Linked DNA regions of Homo sapiens: region 1 is linked to region 2. A link means that fine-mapping ties the variant in region 2 to the expression of a gene that starts in the linked region. Tissue or cell type: whole blood. Region 2 holds a variant in brackets; the other region holds the start of a gene. All regions are shown on one strand. Distances are between the middles of the regions. Region 1 holds the start of NUDT7 (nudix hydrolase 7). Region 2 overlaps LOC107984878 (a long non-coding RNA gene).

Evidence for each region.
Region 1: NUDT7 starts here. The variant in region 2 is fine-mapped to the expression of NUDT7 in whole blood (TOPMed, PIP above 0.99).

The regions. Positions count from the first base shown.
Region 1 is chr16:77,716,699-77,728,946 of GRCh38, reverse strand. It overlaps NUDT7 (nudix hydrolase 7), which reads right to left and starts at 6,433. Exons shown (of 4, transcript NM_001105663.3): 1 at 6,330-6,433; 2 at 3,363-3,516. The coding sequence starts at 6,364. RefSeq lists a silencer at 6,458-6,587 and an enhancer at 6,301-6,595.
Region 2 is chr16:77,747,407-77,759,654 of GRCh38, reverse strand. It overlaps LOC107984878 (a long non-coding RNA gene), which reads left to right. Exons shown (of 6, transcript XR_002957866.2): 5 at 2,203-2,268. Among named protein-coding and RNA genes, the nearest start is that of NUDT7, 31 kb to the right of the region's middle. The variant A/G (reference allele first, on the strand shown) is at 6,243.

The sequences.
Region 1 (12,248 bases), 31 kb after region 2:
GGGTAGAAGAGGGGACAGAGGAGGGATGCGAGGTCAAGGGTGTGGGGGAGAAGAGCAGGACCGATAATGCAGAGCAGCTAATTCCTGAAAACTATAAAGTGGGTGGCTTTGAAGGCCTGAAGGGCTGTGCCCAGGTGTGCAATGGAGAAAGGGGTTTGCCAGCTCTTTGCTGGGCACCAGGGATCTAGGGTTCTGAGAGGAGTCCCTTATCCAAGGTGGACCCGGACAAGGAGATAACGAAAACATAGGTAGCATCCAACAGCATGCAGCACTATGGCATGCCAGCAGCCGTGCTGGGCGTTTTACAGATCTCTTTCAGGCTCAGAACAACCTTGCACATGAGGCGCTGTTTTCAGGCCCATTTTAGGGATGAGAAAACCGAGGTGATTAAGAGATTTACGAACTTTGCAGGCTGGGCGTGGTGGCACACGCTTGTCATCTCAGCACTTTGGGAGGCCAAGATGGGCAGATCACCTGAGATCAGGAGGTCAAGATCAGCCTGGCCAACCAACATGGTGAAACTCCCTCTCTACTAAAAATACAAAAATTAGCCAGGCGTGGTGGCGTGCACCTGTAATCCCAGCTAATTGGGAGGCTGAGGTGGGAGAATTGCTTGAACCCAAGAGGCGGAGGTTGCAGTGAGCTGAGATCACGCCACTGCACTCCAGCCTGGGCGACAGAGCGAGAATCCTTCTGAAAAAAAAGAAAAACTTGTTCGAGGTTCCAGAGCTAGTGGGAGATTGCACATTTGAGAAGGGTTAACCCACTTCTTGCCTTGCTTTCCCCATCCACTGGGGGGAAATCTCCTACCAGCGCCCTGCTTGTGTGAGGGGCAGAGCTCCAGTAGAGCTCCAGAGGGAATTTCTCACCCCTACAGCCAGATAGTGTTTACAATCAGATTGAATTAAATTTAAATAGTTTTTAAAAAGTGACCTTAATAATCAACAGGCAAAAGTGGCTCTGGGTGAAACAAAAGAAACTAGAGACCCCGTTGGTTGAGTTTGTAGTATTGTCTAGATTTCCTATATTATTGTTTGTTAGACAATTCTCTTTTATTTATTTATTTATTTTTATTTATTTATTCATTATTGAGATGGAGTCTTGCTCTGTTGCCCAGGCTGGAGTGCAGTGGCACGATCTCGGCTCAATGCAACCTCCACCTCCCAGGTTCAAGTGATTCTCCCTGCCTCAGCCTCCCCAGTAGCTGGGATTACAGGCACCCACCACCACGCCTGGCTAATTTTTTGTATTTTTAGTAGAGACAGGGTTTCGCCATGTTGGCCAGACTGGTCTCGAACTCCTGACCTCAGGTGATCCGCCCACCTCAGCCTCCCAAAGTGCTGGGATTACAGGCGTGAGCCACCGCACACGGCCATATCTGATAATTTTAAAAAATATATGTAAGTGCTTCTCCTGTGCTTATTGGCAGAGGTGGGAACAGACACTGGTCCCCTGGTTTCCATTTAAGTATTTCCCCCTGGAACCTGGATTTCTATCATGTCCTGAGTTCACGGCATTTCTGCCTGGCTCAGACCGAACACAATCCACACAAGTCTACTTCCACGTCCACAAAACTCCAGCTGATTCCTTGGCATTTTTTTTTTAAACAAAATACTTTTCATTATTCTGCTTAAAAAGCCTGTTAATATGGCTTATTTTCTTTTTGTACTTGGATAAGCTTAAAATGACTGCTTCACCAGCTTTTCCTTGGAAGTTCCCCACAGCAAGGGAAACTGACTGTGCTCACGGGTGTGGGGGTGGTAGAGTTTCGATATTTGTCCTTGCCCAAATCTCATGTTGAACTGGAGTCCCCAGTGTTGGAGGTGGGGTCTGGTTGGAGGTGACTGGATCACAGGGGCAGATTTCTCACGCATGGTTTAGCACCATCATCTTGGCACTGTCCCCATGATAGTGAGTGAGTTCTCATGAGATCCGGGGCCATTTAAAAGTGTGTGGTATTTCCCTGCTCTCTCTCTTGCTCCTGCTCCCCCTCTGCCATGATGGTACACTCCCTGAGGCCTTTCCAGAAACTGAGCAGATGCCTGTGTCATGCTTCCTGTACAGCCTGCAGAACCATGACTCAATGAAACCTCTTTTCTTTATAAATTACCCAGACTCAGATATTTCTTTTTCTTTCTTTCTTTCTTTTTTTGAGATGGAGTCTCGCTGTTCCTCAGGCTGGAGCGCAGTGGCACAATCTCGGCTCACTGCAACCTCCGCCTCCTGGTTTCAAGTGTTTCTCCTGCCTCAGCCTCCTGAGTAGCTGGGATTACAGGTGTGTGCCACCATGCCTGGCTAATTCTTTTGTATTTTTAGTAGAGATGGGGTTTCACTATGTTGGTCAGGCTTGTCTCGAACTGCTGACCTCGTGATCCTCCCACCTTGGCCTCTCAAAGTGCTGGGATTACATGCTTGAGCCACCATACCCAGCCTCAGGTATTTCGTTATAGCAATGCAAGAATGGACCAATACAAGGGGTGAGCCAGAAACTCCATTCCCAGCCCATTATTTCTGTAAAGTGACATCATTTATCTTAAAACTTCAGGTCATGTCTGACAGGTCACTTGACACTAACGATGACAGCTAAAACTTACTGAATTCTTCCTTGCCAAGTACCTGGGTTATATAGGTGCTTTACATTTGTTACCCTGTGAAATGTTCATAGCAGCTGTATGAAGCAGTTACTAATATTTTGTCCTCATTTTACAAGTGAAAAGACTGAAGTACAGAGAGGGCAAGTAACGAGGCCAAAGTCACAGCTGGCAAGGAGAGAGCCTGGATTCAACGTGGACAGCTAGCTTTAGAGCCTAGGCCGTTAACTTCTATGCTCTAGTATTTTCACATTATACTGGGGGTGGGATAGTCTAAAACAGTGGCCCTTGGTGGGGGGCAATTTGGCACCCCCAATCCTGCCAGGATAGTAGGCAATTCTGAAGACATTTGTGGTGTGTGTGCTACTGGCATACTGGACAAAGGGACAAAGGTGTGTGTGAGCTTGTGTTTGTGTGTGCTACTGGCATCTGGTGGGTAGAGGCCAAGGATGATGGTAAACACACCACATTATACAGGACAGCCTCCACACCAAAGAATTATTCAGCCCCAAATGCCAATAGCACCAAGGTTAGGTAACCCTAGTGTGAAAGCGTTTTAAACTGCTTGCTAGCTAAATTCCTTCATTTTCTTGTTAAACCTTCTCCAAGAAACACCATGTTATCCTGTGGCTTGTGGTTGTATGCCTCTGACATCACAATTTTGAAAGCCCTTTTGAGAATTTTGGCATCAAAGTGTGTGCAAGTGACAAAATCTCGTGAGGTCTTCTGATGTCCTGAGGTTTAAGGGCAGGAAATTTTTTGTCCACCTACCTTCTCTGACCGGACGGTGAACAACAAATGGAGTTTTCCTTCTTTAGCCACCAATGGCAAAAGGACGGAGTATTTGTTATATGGCAAGTGAGAATATTTGCCTCCAATATCATACTTTCTTAAGCGGGCCTTAGCATCATCTAGCAAACTGTTTCTAAAATAAAAACAAACCAGACAGACATTTTAGCAAGCAGAGTTATGGTAAAAAGCTTATAGTCCTGCCTCTGTTTCTGCTTTGTTGTGTATTTAGGAGTTTGCCATTTCTGACTCTCTGTGTATTTTTCAATAACACGACAGAAATGATACTATCTAAATTGCGTGGTTGTTCGCAAGATGAAAATGACAAAAAAACCTTCTAAGCACACAGTTTAGTACACAGGTTCTCTTTGAAACATAAAGTATGGTAAAATGTTTTTTCAATAATGCAACAGTTGAATTTTGAAACCCATAATTATATTCAGAGAAGACAGGTTTGATGAAAAAGTCATTGTTAAGGTTAGAAGGTTAGAAGACTACCTTCTGTTAAGCTGGCCCTTATGTTCTCAAACTCTTATGTCTTCAACTGCTTATAATAGTGGTTCCCAAGCTTTAGCAGCAACAGAATCACCTGGAGCGCTGGCTGTCACATAGACTGCGAGGTTCAGTCCCAGACTGTGACTCAGTAACTCTGGTGTAGGGCCTGAGAATTAGCATTTGTATCAAACTCCCTCATGACAGCGTTACTGACGCTGTGGACAGGGGAACACATTCTGAGAACAATTTCCCAATAATATGCAAGCATTTGGATTTAAAACCGCAAATGGTGCCCTTCCTATGTGGACTTGTTTTGGTCCTTTTGACAGGTGTGTTCTACTGCTAGTTTGTATAGTGGGTTGAACAGTATCCCCTCACCCCTGAAATTCATGTCTACCCCAAACTTCAGAGTGTGACTTTATTCAGAAATAGGATCTTTTCAGATGTAATTAAAGTGAGCTCTAAATCCAATGACTGTTGTCCTGATAAGAAGCAGAAACGAGCCCAGTGCAGCGGCTCACGCCTGTAATCCCAACACTGGGAGGTTGAGGCGGGAGAATTGCTTGGGCCCAGGAGTTTGAAACCAGCCTGGTCAACATGGTAAGACCCTGTCTCTACAAAAGAAAAAAAAAAAAAGCATAAATTAGCTTAGGCATGGGGCATGCAACTGTATTCCCAGCTACTTGGAAGGCGGAAGTGGGAGGATCACTTGAGCCCCAGAGTTCAAGGCTGCAGTGAGCCATGATTGCACCACTGCACTCCGGCCTGGGTGACAGAGTGAGACCTGACTCAAAAATAAAATAAAATAAAAGAAGAAAAAACATGGAGAGATGCACACAGGGAAGAAGACCATGTGAAGATGGCGGCAGAGGTTGAAGTGATGCTGCTGTGAGCCAAGGAATGCCAGAAACCACCAGAAACTGGAAGAGGCAAGGAAAGGTCACCCCCAGAGCCTTCTAAGGGAGTGAGGCCCTGCCGATACCTTGATTTTGGACTTCCAGGCTTCATAGCCATGAGAGACCATTTCTATTGTTTTAAAACACCCAGTGTGTGGTACTCTGTTATGGCAGCCCTAGAAAAGGAACAGCTGATTTTACTTTTTCTGTGGGAAGGCAGCTTTGCATAGTGGGCAGAATCAGCTATTTAAGATACCCAGAATTGGCTTCAAATGTATATAGGAGGCCTGGTACAGTGGCTCATGCCTGTAATCCCGGCACTTTGGGAGACTGAGGAAGGTGAATCACTTGAAGTCAGGAGTTCGAGACCAGCCTGGCCAACATGGTAAAACCCCACCTCTACTAAACATACAAAAATTAGCCGGGCATCGTGGCACATGCCTGTAATCCCAGCTACTCAGAAGGTTGAGGCAGGAGAATCGCTTGAACCCAGGAGGCAGAGGCTGCAGTGAGCCGAGATTGCCTACTGCACTGTAGCCAGGGCGGCAGAGTGAGACTCTGTCTCAAAAAAAAAAAAAAAAAAGTGTATACAAATGACTTCTCTGAGTTTCATCTTCATTTGTGTCAGGCTTGAGGATATTTAAGAAGATTAAATGATGCAGTTCATATACTGTGGCTGGCACACAGCTGGTGCTCAGGGAATGGTAACCACTGTCATAAATCTCCCCATCATTAGATAAGCAGTTGTTTGCAGGAGGTATTTGCTATTTTTTGCCTCTTTCTAGGTGGCAGGGTGCTCACCAGATGTGGTTGGGTAACGGCAGTGTATTTCAAAGACCAAATGGCCTGAAAAAAATCAGTGAATGCTGGCACAGGGATTGCACAGTGCATCTGGATGCACGCAGGCCAGCCTCCAGAAAAGGAAACTGTGGGCTGGTGGCTTTTAACCACCCGGAAACCACAGAACTGACCAGACAAACCAGCCAAAGTAAAAGGCTGCAAAAACGTTATCTGTCCACTTTAGGGGCTGGCCGCTGGAATAATCACCAAGGTATCAACAGCAGTAGCAGCCACCCCGTTCTGAGCATGGTCTCAATTTTGACGTTTCTCATTTTATCCTCACAACAGCCCGGCAAGTGATCACAGGGTCACCTCCAGGCTCAGAGAGTTTACGAAACTGACAGACCCAAGGTCACAACTGAAAGTAGCCACCGGGGGACTTGAATCCGGGGCTGCCTGCTGCGGGTCTGTGCCACTGTCGGGGGTCCTGGGGTCCAACTCTGGAGACGCGGATTGCAGAACAGCCAAGCCGGCTGGGAAGGGGAGCAGCGTGTATGTAAACCATACTGGCTTAAGCCGGCTCTGTTCCTGGCCAGAGCAGTGCAAAGGTTCGGGGACCCTGCGGGTTGCTGGAGGCGAGTGCTCCCCCATCCGGCGCTCGCAGGTGGACTGGCGGGAGCTGCAAAATCAGTCCCGGCCAAAAGGCCCCGGTGGCCTCCGCTACGATCAAGGCCGGGCCTGACCAAGCTCGGGGTGCCAGGGCCCGGAAAGCCTTTACCTGACTGGCTCCTCGGGAAGACCAAGTCGTGACATTGCCCTGGGGAATGTTTGTTTCCGGGCGGACTCCTCGGAGCTGCTCGGTCGGTCGCGCTTGCGCAGAGCAGCTCTGGGCTTGGGAGCGGCCTAAAGCCAGAGAGAGGGGCGGGGCTTAGAGCACGAGGCGGGGTGGTGTCTGGGGCGGAGACAGGGGGCGGGGCGGTGCGAGATCTGGGATCGGAGGCCGGGATCGGGGCGGGGCGGGGCTTATAGCCAGAGGCGGGACTTGAGGTGGGGAGAGGCGCGGGGCGGGACTTAGGGCCGGGTGTTCCTGGTTGCTCAAAGCAGTTTCTGCCGGGCTCCTTGGGCTTCTATGGAAGCAAGAGGTATAGGAGGAGTTGTGGAATTTAGAGCTGGAAGAGTTAAAAAAAAAAAAAATACAGTGTTGGTGAGGTGATAATATTTTACACTCGCATTCGCTGTTGCTGGAAGGTTAAGGTGATTCATTCAACTTTTTGGAACTGCTGTCAGCACCTGTTCACCGACCACCTGTATGCACTGGGTGCAGATCCCACAGCTAGCGAAAAGACACGTGGAGCTCACAGTCAAATGGTAGAAACATAAATTAATCACACAGGGCTGGATGCAGTGGCATATGCTTGTAATTCCAACACTTTGGGAGGCCAAGAGGGGAGGATCACTTGAATCCAGGAGTTCGAGCCCAGCCTGGGCAACATGGCGAAACCCCATCTCTACAAAATAAAAATAAAAAATTAGCCAGGCGTGGTGGCACACACCTGTGGTCCCAGCTACTCAAGAGGCTGAGGTGGGAGGATCGCTTGAGCCCAGGAGGTCGAAGCTGCAGTGAGCCGTGATAGCACCACTGCACTCCAGCCTGACAGAGGTAGACCGTCTCAAAAATAAGAAGAAGAAGATAAGAAGTTTTTAATGCAAAAAAAAAAAAAAAAAAAAATCACACTGATAAAGCAGTGGCCTTTGGTCCTTCTAGAGCGTGTGAAGGAGAAATGTGACCCAATTAGGAGACAGAAGAGGCTTGGTAGAGGAAATAGAAGTGCAGCTCATCTTGAAAGCAGTAGTTCTCAAAGTGTGGTCCTCAGACCAGCAGAATCAGGATCACTTTGGTCCTGTTAAAAATGTGGACTCTGGGCCAGGCGCTGTGGCTCACACCTGTAATCCCAGCACTTTGGGAGGCCAAGTCGGGTGGATCACCTAAGGTCAGGAGTTTGAGACCAGCTTGGCCAACATGGTGAAACCCCATCTCTACTAAAAAAACAAAAATTAGCCAGTGGCAGGCGCCTGTAATCTCAGCTACTAGGAGGCTGAGGCAGGAGAATCGCTTGAACCTGGGAGGCGGAGTTTGCAGTGGGCCGAGATCGCGCCATTGCACTCCAGCCTGGGCAAAAAAAAGCGAAACTCTGTCTCAAAAACAAAACAAAACAAAACAACAACAACAACAACAACAAAAACCAAGAAAGAAAGAAAGGAAAGAAAGAAAAGAGAAAAGAAAAGAAAAGAAAAAAGACGAAAAGAAAAGAAAAGAAAAGAAAAGGTGGACTTTGGGGCCCATGTCACAACTGCTGAATCAGAAGCCAGGTGTCAGGCCCAGTGATCTGTGCTGTAAGGGGATTCTGATGCTCTGTGCGGGATAGAGGACATAAATGAGGAAAAAGGCAAGGGAGAGTGTTCAAGGAAGAGGGCAAAGTTTGTGCAAAGACAGCAGAAAGGGGCTGGAGAACAGTGTGTGTGAGGGAGCCTGGTGCGAGCTGAGAATCCAGGGGTCAGTGTAGGGCTGACTTCTCCCTTACAGGCACAGGACACACACAGTAATTTTAGGGACCTGTGAAAATGTTTTAATTGTAATTTCTTTTTAAATTAGAAGAAGAAAAGGTATGTAATAAAAGCAATATATAATAATGAATCCAGCTTGGATGATAGTCATTTTATGAATTCAGTCATAAAATATTCACTTTAAAATTATTTTATGGAAGAAGGGGTGCACAAAAACAAAGTAGCTAGGGCCCATGAAAGTAATATTGTGGCTGGCCCTAGGTCAGTGGGGCAGTTTGTGAAATTATTAATGAAATGAAATATTAATGAAATATCGCTGTGATATTTACAACATCCAGTGTTTACACACCGTGACATCAATGAAATATCGATGTGATATTTATAATATCCAGTGTTTACACACTGTGATATTAATAAAATATGGCTGATATTTGTAATATACAATGTTTACACACCGTGATATTAATATAATATCGCTGTGATATTTATAATACCCAGTGTTTCCACACTGTGATATCAATGAAATGTCTCTGTGATATTTGTAATATCAAGTGTTGATGCACCATAACATCAATGAAATATCACAGATATTTACAACATCCAGTGTTTACACACCATGACCTCAATGAAATATCAATATGATATTTATAATATCCAGTGTGTACACACCGTGATATTAATAAAATATGGCTGTGATATTTGTAATATACAGTGTTTACACACCGTGATATTAAGCAAACATCGCTGTGATATTTATAGTATCCAGTGTTTACACATCGTGATATAAATGAAATATCGCTGTGATGTTTATAATATCCAAGGTTTACAAACTGTGATACCGATGAAACATCGCTGTGATATTTATAATACCCGATGTTTACACAAAGTGTTTACACACTATGATGTTAAATATCGTTGTGATTTTTATAATATCCCGTGTGAAATTAATGAAATATCACTGTGACACTCATAATATCCAGTGTTTACACAGTGCTTACACGCTGTTACGTTAATGAAATATCACTGTGATATTCATAATATCCAGTATTTACACACAGTGCTTACGCACTGTGACATTAACGAAATATCGCTGTGATATTCATAATATCCAGTGTTTCCACACAGTGCTTACACACTGCGATATTAATAAAATATCGCTATGATATTCATAATATCCAGTGTTTGCACACAGTGCTTACACACTGTGACATTAATGAAATATCGCTGTGATTTTCATAATATCCATTGTTTACACACAGTGTTTGCACACCGTGATATTAATGAAATGTTGTGATATTTCTAATATCCAGTGTTCACACATAGTGTTTACACGCCATGATATTAATGAAATATCGATGCAATATTTATAATATCTAGTGTTTACACATCATGATATTAAGGAAATATCGGTGTTATATTTATAATATCCAGTGTTTACACACCGTGATACTAATGAAATATCGCTGTGATATTCATAATATCCAGTGTTTACACACAGTGCTTACACACTGTGACATCACTGAAATATTGCTGTGATATTTACGATATCCTGTGTTTACACACTCTGATATTAGTGAAATATCACTGTGATATTGACAACATCCAGAGTTTATACACTGTGATATCAGTGAAATATCGCTGTGATATTTACAATATCCAGTGTTTACACACTGTAATATCAGTGAAATATTGCTGTGATATTTACAGTATCAAGTTTACACACTGTGATACCAGCAAAATATTGCTCTGATATTTACAATATCCTGTGATTACACACTGGTTACACACTGTGATATCGGCGAAATATCACTGTGATATTTACAATTTCCAGTGGTTACACACTGTGATATTGGCAAAACATCGCTGTGATATTTCCAATATCCACTAGTAACACGTTGTGATATTGGTGAAACATCACTGTGATATTTACAATACCCAGTGGTTACACACTGTGATATCAGCGAAATATCGCTGTGATATTTATAATATCCAGTGTTTACACACAGGGCTTACATGCTGTGATATTAAAGAAATATCGCTCTAATATTTATAATATCCGGTGGTTACACACTGTGATACTAGTGAAATATCACCCTGATAATTATCATCTCCAGTGGTTACACACTGTAATACTGGTGAAATATCATTCTGATATGTATAATATCCAGTGTTTACACAAAGTGTTTACACGCTGTGATACTAGTGAAATACCGCTCTGATACTTATAGTATCCAGTGTTTACACACAGTAATACTAGGGAAATTTCGGTCTGATATTTATAGTGTCCACTTTTTACACACTGTGATACAAGGGAAATTTCGCTCTGATATTTGTAATATCTAGTGTTTATACACTGCGACATTAGTAAAATTTCTCTCTGATATTACTAATATCCAGTATTTACATACTGAGACATTAGTGAAATTTCACCCTGATATTTATAATATACAGCGTTTACACACTGTAACATTAGTGAAATATCGCTCTGATATTTATAATATCCAGAGTTTACACACAGGGTTTACACACTGTGACACTAGTGAAATATCAGTCTGATACATATAATTTCCAGTGTTTACACAAAGTGTTTACACACTGTGATACTAGGAAAATTTGACTCTGATATTTATAGTATCCAGGGCTTACACACTGTGATACAAGGAAAATTTTGTTCTGATATTTATAGTATCCAGGGTTTACACACTGTGATACTAGGAAAATTTTGTTCTGATATTTATAGTGTCCAGGGTTTACACACTGTGATACTGGGGAAATTTAGCTCTGATATTTATAAAATCCAGGGTTTACACACTGTGATACCAGGGAATTTTCGGTCTCATATTTAGAGTATCCAGGATTTACACATTGTGATACTAGGGAAATTTTGCACTGATATTTATAGTATCCACGATGTACACACTGTGATTTTAGGGAAATTTCGCTCTGATATTTATTGTATCCAGGGTTTACAAACTGTGATATTAATGAATATTGCTCTGATGAGGATACATGTAATATCCAGGGTTTACACGCTGTGATATTAATGAAATATCGCTCTGATGATAATAATTGTAATATCCAGTGTTTACACACTGTAGTATTCATGAAATATTGCTCTGATGATACTTGTAATATCCAATATTGACACACTATGATATTAACAAAATATCACTCTGATGATACTTGTAATATCCAGTGTTTACACACAGTGATATATATGAAATATCAGTGTGATGATATTTACAATATCCACTGTTTACACACTGTGATATTAATGAAATATTTCTCTGATGGTATTTATAATATTCAGGGTTTACACACAGTGATATTAATGAAATATCTCTCTGATGATGTTTATAATATTCAGTGAGTGAAATATCACTCTGATATTTATAATATCCGGTGTTTACACACTGTGATATTAATGAAATATGGCTCTGATATTTATAATATCCAGTGTTTACACACTGTGATATTAATGAAATATTGCTCTGAGATGTATAATATTCAGTATTCACACACTGTGATAGTAATGAAATATGGCTCTGATATTTATAATATCCAGTGTTTACACACTGTGATAGTAATAAAATATCGCCATGATATTTATAATGGCAGTGGTGTACACACTGTGATGTTTATGAAATATCGCTCTGATAATTATAACATCCAGTGCTTATACACTAAAATATTAATGAAATGTCACTCTGATATTTATAATATTCAGTGTTTAGACACAGTGTTTACACACTGGGATATTAATGACATCTTGCTCTAATATTTATCATATCCAGTGTTTAGACACAGTGTTTACACACTATGATATTAATGAAATATCACTGTGATATTTATAATATTCAGTGTTTACACACTATTGATATTAATGAAATATCGCTCTGATATTTATATTATTCAGTGTTTACACACTGTGATATTAAAGAAATGTCACTCTGATATTTGTAATATCAGTGTTTACACAGTGTTTAAACACGTTGATAATAATGAAATATGACTCTGATATTTATAACATCAAGTGTTTACACACTGTAATAGTAATGAAATATCCCCCTCATATTTAAAATATCCAGTGTTTACACACTGTGATATTTATAAAATATTGCTCCGATATTTA
Region 2 (12,248 bases):
ATGGAGTGTGTAGTTTAACTCTACTGTTTTCTTTGTTGATTTTCAGTGTGCACAGAGTTTTAAGGACACAAATCAGATGGGCATGAGTGAAGTGCCCAGGATGGACCTATGTTCATCCCACCAATGATTCAGTGCCCCTCCTGGTCAGGTGTCCAGAGGCCTCACACTTTTATTATGTCCATTATTCCCAGCAACCCTGCAGAGTAGGCATCCTAATGCTTGTTTGACAGATAAGGACATGGAGGCCTAGAGGATTAATGGCTTTGGCCACACCCACATGGGACTAGAATTGTGTAACTCCAACATATGTGGGTTACTTTTTTTTTTTTTTTTAACTTTACTACCTTTTCGAAATCATGGATAATATACATGTGCTATGGGGCTTTGCAGAAAGATTAGTGATCCCAGCTAAATGGAGATTTTCATCCTCCAATGAAACATGCTCATATTACCAGGGACAGAAATTGGACTTGCTAAACCTAGGCTGAAAAGGAACCAGAGTTTTTATCAGGGCATCTTCTTAGGGAAAGTGACAGCCCAAACGCTCAGAAGGCAGAGTGAGCCCTGCGCAGACAAGAGGGCTGAGAGGGTGGAGAAGGAAGGGCCTTGCCTCCCTGTTGGTGGTAGAGAGGATGTAGAGGAAGGTGCATGAGTATGAATCAGCCCTGTAAGAGACCCCACAGGGTCAGATCAGAGAAGCTAAGGGCAGTCAGCAAATCCAAGGAGCAAGGAAAAGGCAAAAATAGGAGGAGAAATTAAGACTAGTTCCAGATCCAGGACTAGATCCAAAACCAGAGACTAGATCCAATGCCAGGACTAGATCCAAATCCAGGACTGGATCCAGAACGGGGACTAGATCCAGAATGGGGACTAGATCCAGATCCAGAGACTAGATTTGGATCCAGAGACTAGATCCAGACCAGGACTAGATCCAGAACCAGGACTAGGTCCAGATCCAGCACTAGATTCAGAACCAGGACTAGACTGAGAACCAGGACTAGATCGAAATCCAGGACTAGATCTAGATCCAGAGACTAGATCCAGAACCAGGACTAGATCCAGAGCCAGGACTAGATCTAGAAGCAAGACTAGATCCAGATCCAGAGACTAGATCCAGAACTAGGACTAGATTCAGATCCAGAGACTAGCTCCAAATCCAGGACTAGATCTAGATCCAGAGACTAGATACAGATCTATAACTACAGAGGGACAGCAATGGTATCAAGAGCCAAACATCAGCCACAAAGGGAGCCACATCCTTTATCCATCGCCAGCTATGCAGCCTTGGCAGGTCTCTTCTTCTGCTGCCTGAGAATGGTTACACTGATGCTGAGTGGCGGTGAGGAATGGAACGAATCTACACAAGGCTTCGGTCATTCTATGCTGTGATGAAAGTGACCAATTCTCTTAGAATCACAGTGTCTGCTATTGTTCTTTATGAGTTAGTGGACTTATGGTCCCAGATGGAACAAAGTGACCTGACATACGAGTTTGCCACAGAGTTCCTGCAGCTTCTGAATGAACAAGCCCTATATTAGCAAGCTTTTTCTTGGTATTGTTTGGGTTATAGTTTTATGGCATAGAAGATAAAGAGAAATCTTTGCATTTTTTCTAAATTATTGAAGATCATCAGAGGTTAGGAGGAGAAAGGAAAAGTAAACTTTGGGTAGCAAGTTTTAATCTTTTTTTTTTTTTTTTTTTTTTTGAGACACAGTCTCGCTCTGTTGCCCAGGCTGGAGTGCAGTGGTGCGGTCTCGGGTCACTGCAACCTCCAACTCCTGGGTTCTTGCCATTCTCCTGCCTCAGCCTCCCGGGTAGCTGGGACTACAGGCACCTGCCACCACGCCCGGCTAATTTTTTGTATTTTTAGTAGAGATGGGGTTTCACCATGTTAGCCAGGATGGTCTCGATCTCCTGACCTTGTGATCTGCCCGCATTGGCCACCCAAAGTGCTGGGATTACAGGCGTGAGCCACCGCGCCCAGCTGGAGGATTGTTTTTATGGAAGTGCTGGTAGGGGTGGGATGCATTCTTTCCTTTGGACTTTAAACTTGTGAACAGAATTCTATAATCCAGGTGTTTTGGGTATTGTTTCTAAAAATACTTTGGCCCCTTAATGATTTAATTTTTATTGATCAACTTTAGGGTAATGGAGGATAACCCAATAAATTAATAACATATTGCATGGTTCATTTCTCATTAGCTCATCCAAGATCAACTGCAGAGGAGGACGAGGGAAATTTTATATGGGAACAATTATCTGAAAAATGTGAGTATCTCAAGATAATCTGATTGCTTAGTTTTAGCTAACCCTGAGGTCTAAATACTTACAGCCAAGAGAATTTATCTGATGAGTTTAGTCCAAGAAACACAACTTTATTTTCCCACTACTAGCTGAATATAAGTGTCAATTTAAGAGTGCTACATGCCCTACAAACATCGATCGCCTCATGTTCCAAATGAAAAAGTTCATTAGTGAGCTTCTCTCCTGATGTGTTATTATTAACTGGAAGCTAAAATTAATGAATTTTGTCGGATTGCCTCAAGTAGTGATAGGGAATGATAGAATTCTTCAGCAGTCGATTTCTATTCTATCATCTGCTTAGTTTTGTTGTTGTTGTTGTTTTCTTTTCTTTTCTTTTCTTTTTTTTTTTTTTGAGGAGTCTTGCTCTGTTGCCCAGGCTCTGGAGTGCAATGGTGCAATCTCGGCTCACTGCAAGCTCTGACTCCAGGGTTCACGCCATTCTCCTGTCTCAGCCTCCCGAGTAGCTGGGACTACCGGTGCCTGCCACCACGCCTGGCTAATTTTTTGTATTTTTAGTAGAGACAGGGTTTCGCCGTGTTAGCCAGGATTGTCTGGATCTCCTGACCTTGTGATCCACCCGCCTCGGCCTCCCAAAGTGCTGGGATTACAGGCATGAGCCACGCGCCCGGCCTTTTTTTTTTTTTTTAAATAAATGTCACTCATAGGGGTCTTCTGAACTTAGTATGGCCTGGAAATCTCAGGGCACAATGGATAAATTGCATTATATTTCTCCACTGCTGTAAATGTATTTGATATTGGGGTTCCTTTGGTTGCAAGAGACAGAGATCCAGTTCAGACATGCTTAACAAATCATGTTATCCACACACATAACTTGGAAATTCACTGATGATCAATAGCCAAAGGCAATATGAAAACATGCTGTATAGATGAAAAACACAGCTACCACCAAGCCCTTAACACATCTGATTTCTCTTCTTTTGGTCTTTCATGGGAAATGTAACATTAGTGGGGCTGGAATATAGGTTCTGTAATAGCAATCCTCACTTAAGTAGCCTTGTGTTCTTGGGCAAGCATTGAAATTCACCAAATCTTTCACTGTACAACAGAGCTTGCCATTCTAGTCTGGCACATAGGATTATAAGGACAAGTAAACAAGAAGCCAAGTGACAGAACTCTATGAATATATGTAATCGTCCATTTCATTTGTTCTTTGGGTCCTTTTAGACCCAACTGTTTCTAGTAGAAGTGGGTGTGGAAGAGGAAGCCATGGAGAAATAGTTGCCTACTCAATGTGGGCAGAGAATGAAGGTTTTCAAAATCGACAAGTCCCATGAAACGACGCACTCTTAGTGTTGTACTGAAAATCTGCAGAATGAGAGACACATGTCTTCTGAATATGATGGCTCAGACTATTTCTTATTTATAATATTTTCCCAAATAATTTCTCATATTTTTCTGTAATTTAAATCCATATTTTCAGGTCAGGATGCTTGTGATCGTTTAGTGGACTTGAAATTTTGCACAATGATGAACGATTTTTTTCCTGTCTTGATAAGCAAGTCATAGGGGATGGTCTGGGGAGATACATCAAAATTGTTTAATACAAGCACGTGTTTAGAACCTCAGAGCCCTACAGAGGCTTCCTACGTTTATCTGTATGAAGATCTCTGTTTTCTCCCCTGAGGCTGCACATAGGAACTGCTAAAGCAGTACAAGAAATACCAGCCACCGCAGTCTATCTTATATAATGATTTCCCTTTCAGTCTCAGGTTCTTCTGCCCAGACTCAGCTTGTTATCCCAGGCTTTATTCCTTTCAGGTTGATTTTACCCAAGGGGACTTGTGCTTCTGGCATCTTGTTTATAGCGGGATACCCTACAAAGCTCCAACATGCCTGCGCATGGCTGGACTCCAATGCTGGCAAGTTGCAATGTTCTTCCTGGTACATGGCTCAGCCCCCATGTGAATCGGTTAAAGAAAATAGATACCCAAGAGAGGGAGCAGCCACAGCCTCACATATCTTCCTTACATTTAGAAAACTTTCTCAAACTTCTCAGAGTGTTTTATATGTGGCCATTTTTTACTGCAGGTGTGAATATAGTAAACTGGGGTTAGAGGGGTGATGTTATGGCGCACGCAAGCAATGGACTTGGAGGGAGAACGAAAGGGAAGGAAGATGGTCTCGCAGCCATGAATATTCTACTAAAGTGTGGCCTGGGCAGCTAAACTGATGTACTCCAAAGATGTGCCAACGATGGCCTCCCTCTGATCACCTTAGGTGAATTCAGTCCCTGAAAATTCTAGTTTCAGAATTTGAATTTTTGCTTTCTATCTTTTTTAATTTAGGGATTAGGTTTTTTGTTTTGAGGGGATTTTGTGTTTTTAAGTTAAAAAAAAAAACTCCTCATACTCAGACATTCCAAGTCCTTATATTTTATATCCTTTCAAAACTTTGTTTTTAAAATTACTTTTATGGATTATTAAAGCAGTGTGTACACATTGTAGAAAAATTAGGAAAAAAGCCCCCCAAAAATAAAAACTACCAAAAAACAAAGAATGTAAGTGATAATTATAATCCCAACCTCCTCCCTGAGAAGACAATTTTTAACACCTCTATGAATATCCTTACAAATAGAGAAGTATGGATAAAACTGACAAAAATGAAATCATATATATCTTTCTATAATTTACCATAATTTATTTAAACCATTTACAACTTGTTTGGTGTCTAGGTTGCCTTCAATTTTTCCTAATGTATACAAATATAAAGCTGGACTAATTAGCTGAGAATAAATTAGACAATCTTTAAAATAGAAAAAAATGAATAATTCTAAAACATAATTAAATATGCATGAATAGTACTAAAATTAGCCCATGATGAAACAAATCATCAGTATTAAAAAATAATACAAATTAAAGTAGCAGTGCTTGGGAATTTTATTTTTACCTAATCATTACTGTGATTTCATTCTTGTATTGACCTACTTCTTGGCAATAAAATGACCTTGACCATCTAGTTTTCAGCCAAATTAATTCATTCATCCACTCAGTACTTATTTATTGAATTCCTAATGGAAAATAAAATATAATTGAAAGTCCCCACACTCACAGAGCTTGTGTTCTAGTGTGAGAGATAGGAAAAAAAACCAAGTATGTACCCAAAAAATACCAGATATGGAAGTAAAATATGGGTGCATGAGAGAGAATGACATCAGCGTTAGACTCTTCCAGGAAACGACAGGTGTAGTGAGAACTGATGATAAAACAAGTGCCATCCATGCAAAAACCAGGGTGAAGACAATTGCTGGGAGAGGGGCATCTAGTGCAAGAGCACTATGGTGGGGGCAAGCATAGCGTTTCCAACAGGAGAAAGAAGCACAAGCTGAAGGAAGTTCAGTGGCCAAGATCAAGAAGGGTCAGAAGTAGGCGGAGTCCACAATGTGCCAGTTTTGTCAACCAAAGACAAAGGTTGAACTTTATTACAGGCACAGGTGGGTAAGCGCACTAACCCACGCCTGCAATCCCAGCACTTTGGGAGCCAGATGAGAGAGGATCATTTGAGGGCAGCCTGGGCAACATAGCAAGACCTTGTCTCTACCAGAAATGAAAAATAAAGAAAGAAAAAAATAAAGTCAGTCACAGTTGGACGACACTAGAAGGTTTTAGGCCAAGAAACGGCATGACTTTATTCATGACTTCAAAAGATCACTCTGGATGTTGGGTGAAGAAGGGCATATAAGGAGCAAGAATAGGTGCAGGGGAGGTAAGGGGTTGAGGGGGATGATGAGTCTGGGACCAGGTGCTACAGGTGGAAAGGGGGACAGGATGCATTTAGGGTGTGAATCAGAAGCAGAATGAACAAACTTGCTGATGAAGTGCAGGGAGCAAAGAGGGAGAAAAACAAACTGAAGCATAACGCCTCTGGGACTACTAAGAAGAATTATTTTGTCTGGTGAGTGTTTTTGGACAAATAGCATA[A/G]CATGTTTGGGCACCTATTATAATATAAAGCATAGTACAAAAATTGTTTCTGATAATAATAATTGTACTTTCCACTTATTAAGTACATGCTATGTACTTAATGCTGATCTCTTTTTTTCTTATTGAACATAGAGGGGATAAAAATATGTACGTTGAATTAAATACTATTCCTCTCATCTCACTTATTAAATTACCAAATAACCCATGTTTTCCATATGGCCTTTGCCCGTTTGAGGATTGCATTGCCAAGGAAACAGATTGTTAAGCACAGGCTCTGCAGGTAAATCCTATTAAATATGTCATAATTCAAACAAAATGCACAAAGCCAACTAGGCTTGGGTTTGGAATATTAGCTTCCAAATGTCCCCCTCCTAAGGCCTAACTATATACTTAATAAGGTTCAACGTTTAGATGCCTGTCTAATTCTACCCAGAGCCCTGGACTTGTACATTCCTGACCCAAATCCCTGATCTGAATGTCAGAATTTTTAATTAACCTCCCCAAATGGCATTTTCACATAATAAACTCTATGCATGCTGCTAGCTTCGAACAGTAGACAAAAAGTGATCCTTTTCTTTTCCTCAGTCAGATTTTTCCTTTGTAAAACATTAAGCAGAATGGCTTCATTACCTGGATATGCTTAAATGAGGCTGGGGAAAACCCAGAATTGGAGATTTCAAAAGGAAAAGGAATTAGAGATTAACTAGTTCCAATCCGCTTTATACGTAAGGAACCTGAGGTTCAGCAAGATTGTGATTTCTGTCTGCAAGGTTACAGAGCATATTTATGGACAGTACTAGGGGCAATGCCTACCTCCCCTGGCTGGTGATGTCTTCCTTTGTCTCAGGGTTCTTCCATTCACCACCCTCCTCCTAAAAGTCATCCTTGTTGTTCCTTCAGTATAAATTCTTCATTTCCTCCTCCCTCACCTACGTCCTTTGCTCCCCAGTCGTCTCTTCTGGCCCTCATGGCCTTAGCTCTACCTTTCTTCTGCTCATTTCCTAAATGCAGCTTATTCCTCCAAGTCCCACTCCTGATCTTATCATTCACCCCCCTCACTGCAACTCAGGCTCAGGCTCATCAAGCTCGTTACTGGATCAATGAATTCACCCACCAAATGTGTTTTGCACAGCATGTTTTTTTCAATTCAGTGCCCATGGCTTTTGCTAGAAGGCTGTCCTCATTTGACCCTTGTCATTTCATTAAAAAATATCCAGTGGAGTGAGAAAAAAGTGTAATTGAAACCAATGTACCACAAATAAACTCTTCTTATTTAGGAAAATTCACTGCTGAGCTTATTGAATGTGGAAGGTGGGTCCTAGTGGGCATGAGATGCATGGAGCCAAATAGACACCATCCTCTGAAAAGGAAATGAATGTCATTTTGGTGGTGGGAGCAAAGAGAAAAGCAAAAAGGAAGAACAAGCATGTGGAGGAATACAGCATCAGCCTGATACCCAACTTGGTAGAATGGACAGGACTTTTAAAGAACAAGAAAAACATAATATTCAAATTTAAGTTTGGCTCTCTTATGTTGCAATCAAAGTTTACCTGGCTGATATCCCTGTGTCTCCAATTAAAGCCACTCAATGATTTACATACAAGTTACTTTAGGAAAAACAAGGAGAAGCAGTCTCTGTCCTGGATTTGGGTTGGCACTAAGGAAAAAGACCTCAAGATGCAGAATACAGAACTAACATTCACTGAAGCTGGAAATTGAACCTAAGGTGATTAGAAGAAAGGTACTCTCTGAAGGATTTGAATAAATCTTGGGGAGAATATCGAGCTTTCCACTGGAATTACAATGGGGATTTAAGGCAAGTTTTTGTAGATATGAAGGGGCATGGGTCCTAAATATATGGCTAGCATTGAGGCTAGAAGGGTAAAGAAGAGCTAAGTCTGCTCCTCTGGTAGTTCATAGTACATCAAGACAGCTAGGTATGGAAATAACTAAGTTACAAGGCAAAAACTGGTTAAAGATAGGAGCCACTCACTCATGTCCACTCTGGTAGAGCACTTTATATACCTTATACAGTAAATGCAGGAGGGGGTGATTTACAACAATGCTAGACCACCTTAGGTTGACCTTTGTCAAGCAGTCTGTTGGGAAGAGACTGAATTTTCCTTAGCCCACTGAATTAGCTATTTGAGTAGAAATAGCTACTTCTCATTTAGTTGTACTCTTTTATTTAACAAATATCCATTGAGCACCTACTCTTTACCCAGTGTTGTGCCAAGTGCTAAGAGTACTCTTGTGTATGGACCAAAATTGAGACATGACTGTGCCATTATGGAAGTTGAAGTCCAGAGAATGAGGGGACATCAATCAAAGAATCAAGGGGATATCATATTGTAACTATGACAGGAGTTATGAAGTAGAGGTACATGGCACCAAGAGAGCTTATAACAAGGAGAACTAACCTAGCTAAGGTGTCAGAGAAGGCATCCTTCAACAATAAGTATGAGGTAACCAGGCAAAGGGAAATGATTGAGGGATCAGCTTGTGCAAGAGTTCTGAGGCACCCATGGACTGAAACTGAGCCTCTACAGGCCAGTGCTGTAGGAGTGGATGAGCAGGGAGGGGGCTCATGGTACTACACATAACCAGATAGGTAGACAGGAGCCAGGACACGGCCTTGTAAGAGCCATCCATCTTTTTCATAAAAAACAATGGGAAGCCATTTGAGTGCCTCAAGAAAATATGATGATATTTATATTGAAAAATAACTCTGGCTATAGAAGAGAGATGGTGCAGGGTAATAGTTACCAGATAGATGCAAAAGTTTTCAGACGTTTATGACAGCTTTAACTAAGTTGATGTCGGTAGAGATGAGAAGAACTAGATTTGATAGATATTCAGAAGATAAATTCAGTACGATTTGGCGACGGATTAGATATAGGAGTGTCTTAATTTGGTTTACCTAGAAACCTAAAGACAAGATTCAAGTTATTTATTTGGAATCTACAGGGCACATTGTTATGGGAGTGGAGAAATGAGACAAAGAAGGGAAGGCAGCCAATGAAAAGAAGTGTGAAACTTGCCACCACAGCGGGCACCCAGAGTTTAGTTCAGTTTGGGAGCAAGTACAGAACACCTGTCTCAGAATTATCCCACCCAAGGGGCAAAGAACCTGAGCTACTGATATGCAAAATCCCATCAGTCATTGGTTGAGGGTTAATGTAGGGGACATTAATTCCCTGTCACTTCCAGCTGGCCTGCTGTGGCTTTGGAAAAAGCCTGCAGGAACACAGATGCAAATGTTGGCTGTTGGAAGTGATCTGGAGCTCACTGCAATGGTAGGGTCCTAAGGATGTGGGTAGGACACAGACTGTATCTGTACATGGGGTGATCATTACTTCTCCAGTGTCCTAGTGTCCTGGCCACACATGAGTCATCTAGAGCCACTCTGTCCAGTAGAAATATACTGTAAGCCATGTATGTAAATTTAAATTTTCTAGTAGCCACATTCAAAAAAGTACTAAGAAACAGGATAAATTAATTTTCACCCTATATTTAACCCAACATCTCTAAAACATTATCATTTCACCATGTAGCCAATAGTAAGTCTTTGAAATCCAGTGTGTATTTGACTCCTACAGCATCTCAATTTGGACTAGCCACATTACAGGTGCTCTGTAGCCAGGGGTGTCTTGTGACAGCTTCACAGTTATCTCATGGGCTAGCCCAGACCCAAAGGCTTCTCCAGGAATGTTGATTCAGACTTTGATACATTTGCTTTAGCTTCTGTTTACTGGACCAACAAAGAAGAGGTGCAAAGGACACATATGTTATCAAAGACATCAGTGAGTTGACTTGGGTCTCCATTGTCCCTCTTTGTTCCTTATAGAACCTAAAGGCAGTCTATAGAGGAGTCATGGGGGCAACTGTGGTGGGGGAGAGGTGAGAAGAGCCAAGCAAGCAGTAATCTGTCCCCCTCACATACTTAACTGTCAGAGCAGTTTTACTTCTATATGTGGCAGGCAGGCCAGGCATGGCGGCTTATGCTTGTAATACTAGCACTTTGGAAGGCTCAGGTGGGAGGATTGCTTGGAGCCAGGAGTTTGAGACCAGCCTTTGCAACATAGCAGGACCTTGTTTCTATTTATAAAATAAAATATAATAAACATGATGTGGCAGACAATGAGTTTCCCATCATCCTCTTCCTTGTTAGCCGGGTCTGCCTCTCACAGTGGAGGAGAAAATGTCAGATGCCTATTTTCCTAATTTTTCTTGCAATTAGCATATGGGCTTAATCTGTCCAATGGGTCATATAGCTAGTGATGAGAGGAGACTGGGTTTTCTGTCTTCAGTCTTTCCTACCATACCATATTGCACTTCCAGAAGACTCTACATGTGGATAGGTCCATTCTAAGTTAAGAAAGAATAGAACCTAAGGTCCCCATAGTGTAAAAGGGTGTGAGAAAAGAGAAAAGAGAAGGATATAAAGACGTGTGTTTGTGATATGTTAGGACATTTTCCAGTGAAAGTTATAGAACTCTTTCTAAGCTTGCTCAAGCACGTTAGGGAATTTAACTACGAAGGGTGGGAGCATTTCATGGAAACCATGGAAACATCCGGGTCTCAAGAACAAACATCCAGGGATTCTAATGCCTTCACAACACACGACTGACTTTCATTGCTCTTCCATTCTGGTCATTGACTTTGTTCTCCTCTCTTGTTGCAGACAAGCTTTCTCTGCTTCCCAGGGCAAATGGTGGAACACAAACACCCACATATGCTCTCTTCCGGAGGGCAGGCAGACAGACTCTGCTGTTGCTTGGTACTAATCCCAAGGGAATTACTGAGGGACTAAATCTGATTAACTGAGTTTATGCTGGGAGGTCAGCAATGTCCTGTTTCCATGGTAATCCCAAGACAGAGGGCAGAGCTATTTCTCAAAATGAAGAGATGTTTCAGAAGGGGGCTGTGTAGTTTCCTAGGGCTGTCCTAACAATTTGCCACAAACTTGGTAGCTTAAAACAACCGAAATTTGTTATCTCACGGTTCTGAAGGCCAGAAATCTGAAATCAAGGCGTTGGCAGCATCACCCTCCCTCCAAAGGCTGTGGGGAGGACCCTTCCTTTCCTCTTCCAGCTTCCGGTGGCTCCTGGTGTTCCTTGGCTCGCGGCAACATAACTCTAATCTCTGCCTCTGTCTTCACATGGCTTCTTCCCTGTGTCTCTTGCAACTGTGTGTCTCAAATTTCCCTCTTTTTTTATTTATAAAGACACCAGTCATTGGATTTAGGGATTACCGTAAATCTAGGATGATCTCATTTCAAGGTCTTTAACTTAACTACCTCTGCAAAGATCTTATTTCCAAATAAGCTCACATTCACAGGCATTGGAGTTAGGATTTGGACATATCTTTTCGGGACCACTATTCAATTCACTACAGGGGGCTAAGATGGGTTAATATATGTTTGTAACAGGTTGAGAGTTCTAGCAAAATGTTCCCACTATCTTCAGTTTATCATTTAGCCTGATATTAGACCATACAGATTTATAGTCAGAAAAAATAACGTAGGCAAATTTTCAGAATGCTGTTTGGGATCCGTGAAATATAGCTGAAACTGAAGGCTGATGGAAGAAGATGAAATGAGACTAGAGTGAAGAAACACGTGAAGAAAGTGAGGAGAAGAAAATAATCGGAAGGAAAACTTCAAGTTTCACATAAATGATAAGTGAAAAAGAGAAAAAAATTGACACAGAGATGTCATTGACATCCATGATGAAGTAGAGAGTAAGGGCTTGAAGATTTAAAATGAAAATTGAGGAAAGTTATAGTTGAGGAAATATTAAACCAAGTCTACACCTATAAAATTAAAATTTATGGGCTTGAGTATGAGATCTTTAAGAAGGATAAATTGCTTCAGGAAATATTCTTCTTCCAGTTGTATCTGATGAAATCCCTGACACGACAACTACTGCTTAGAGCAAAGACATATTTCTACCATTATTGGCCAACTAACTTTAAACTCTGACTTCTTGGGCTCACTCATCAGTA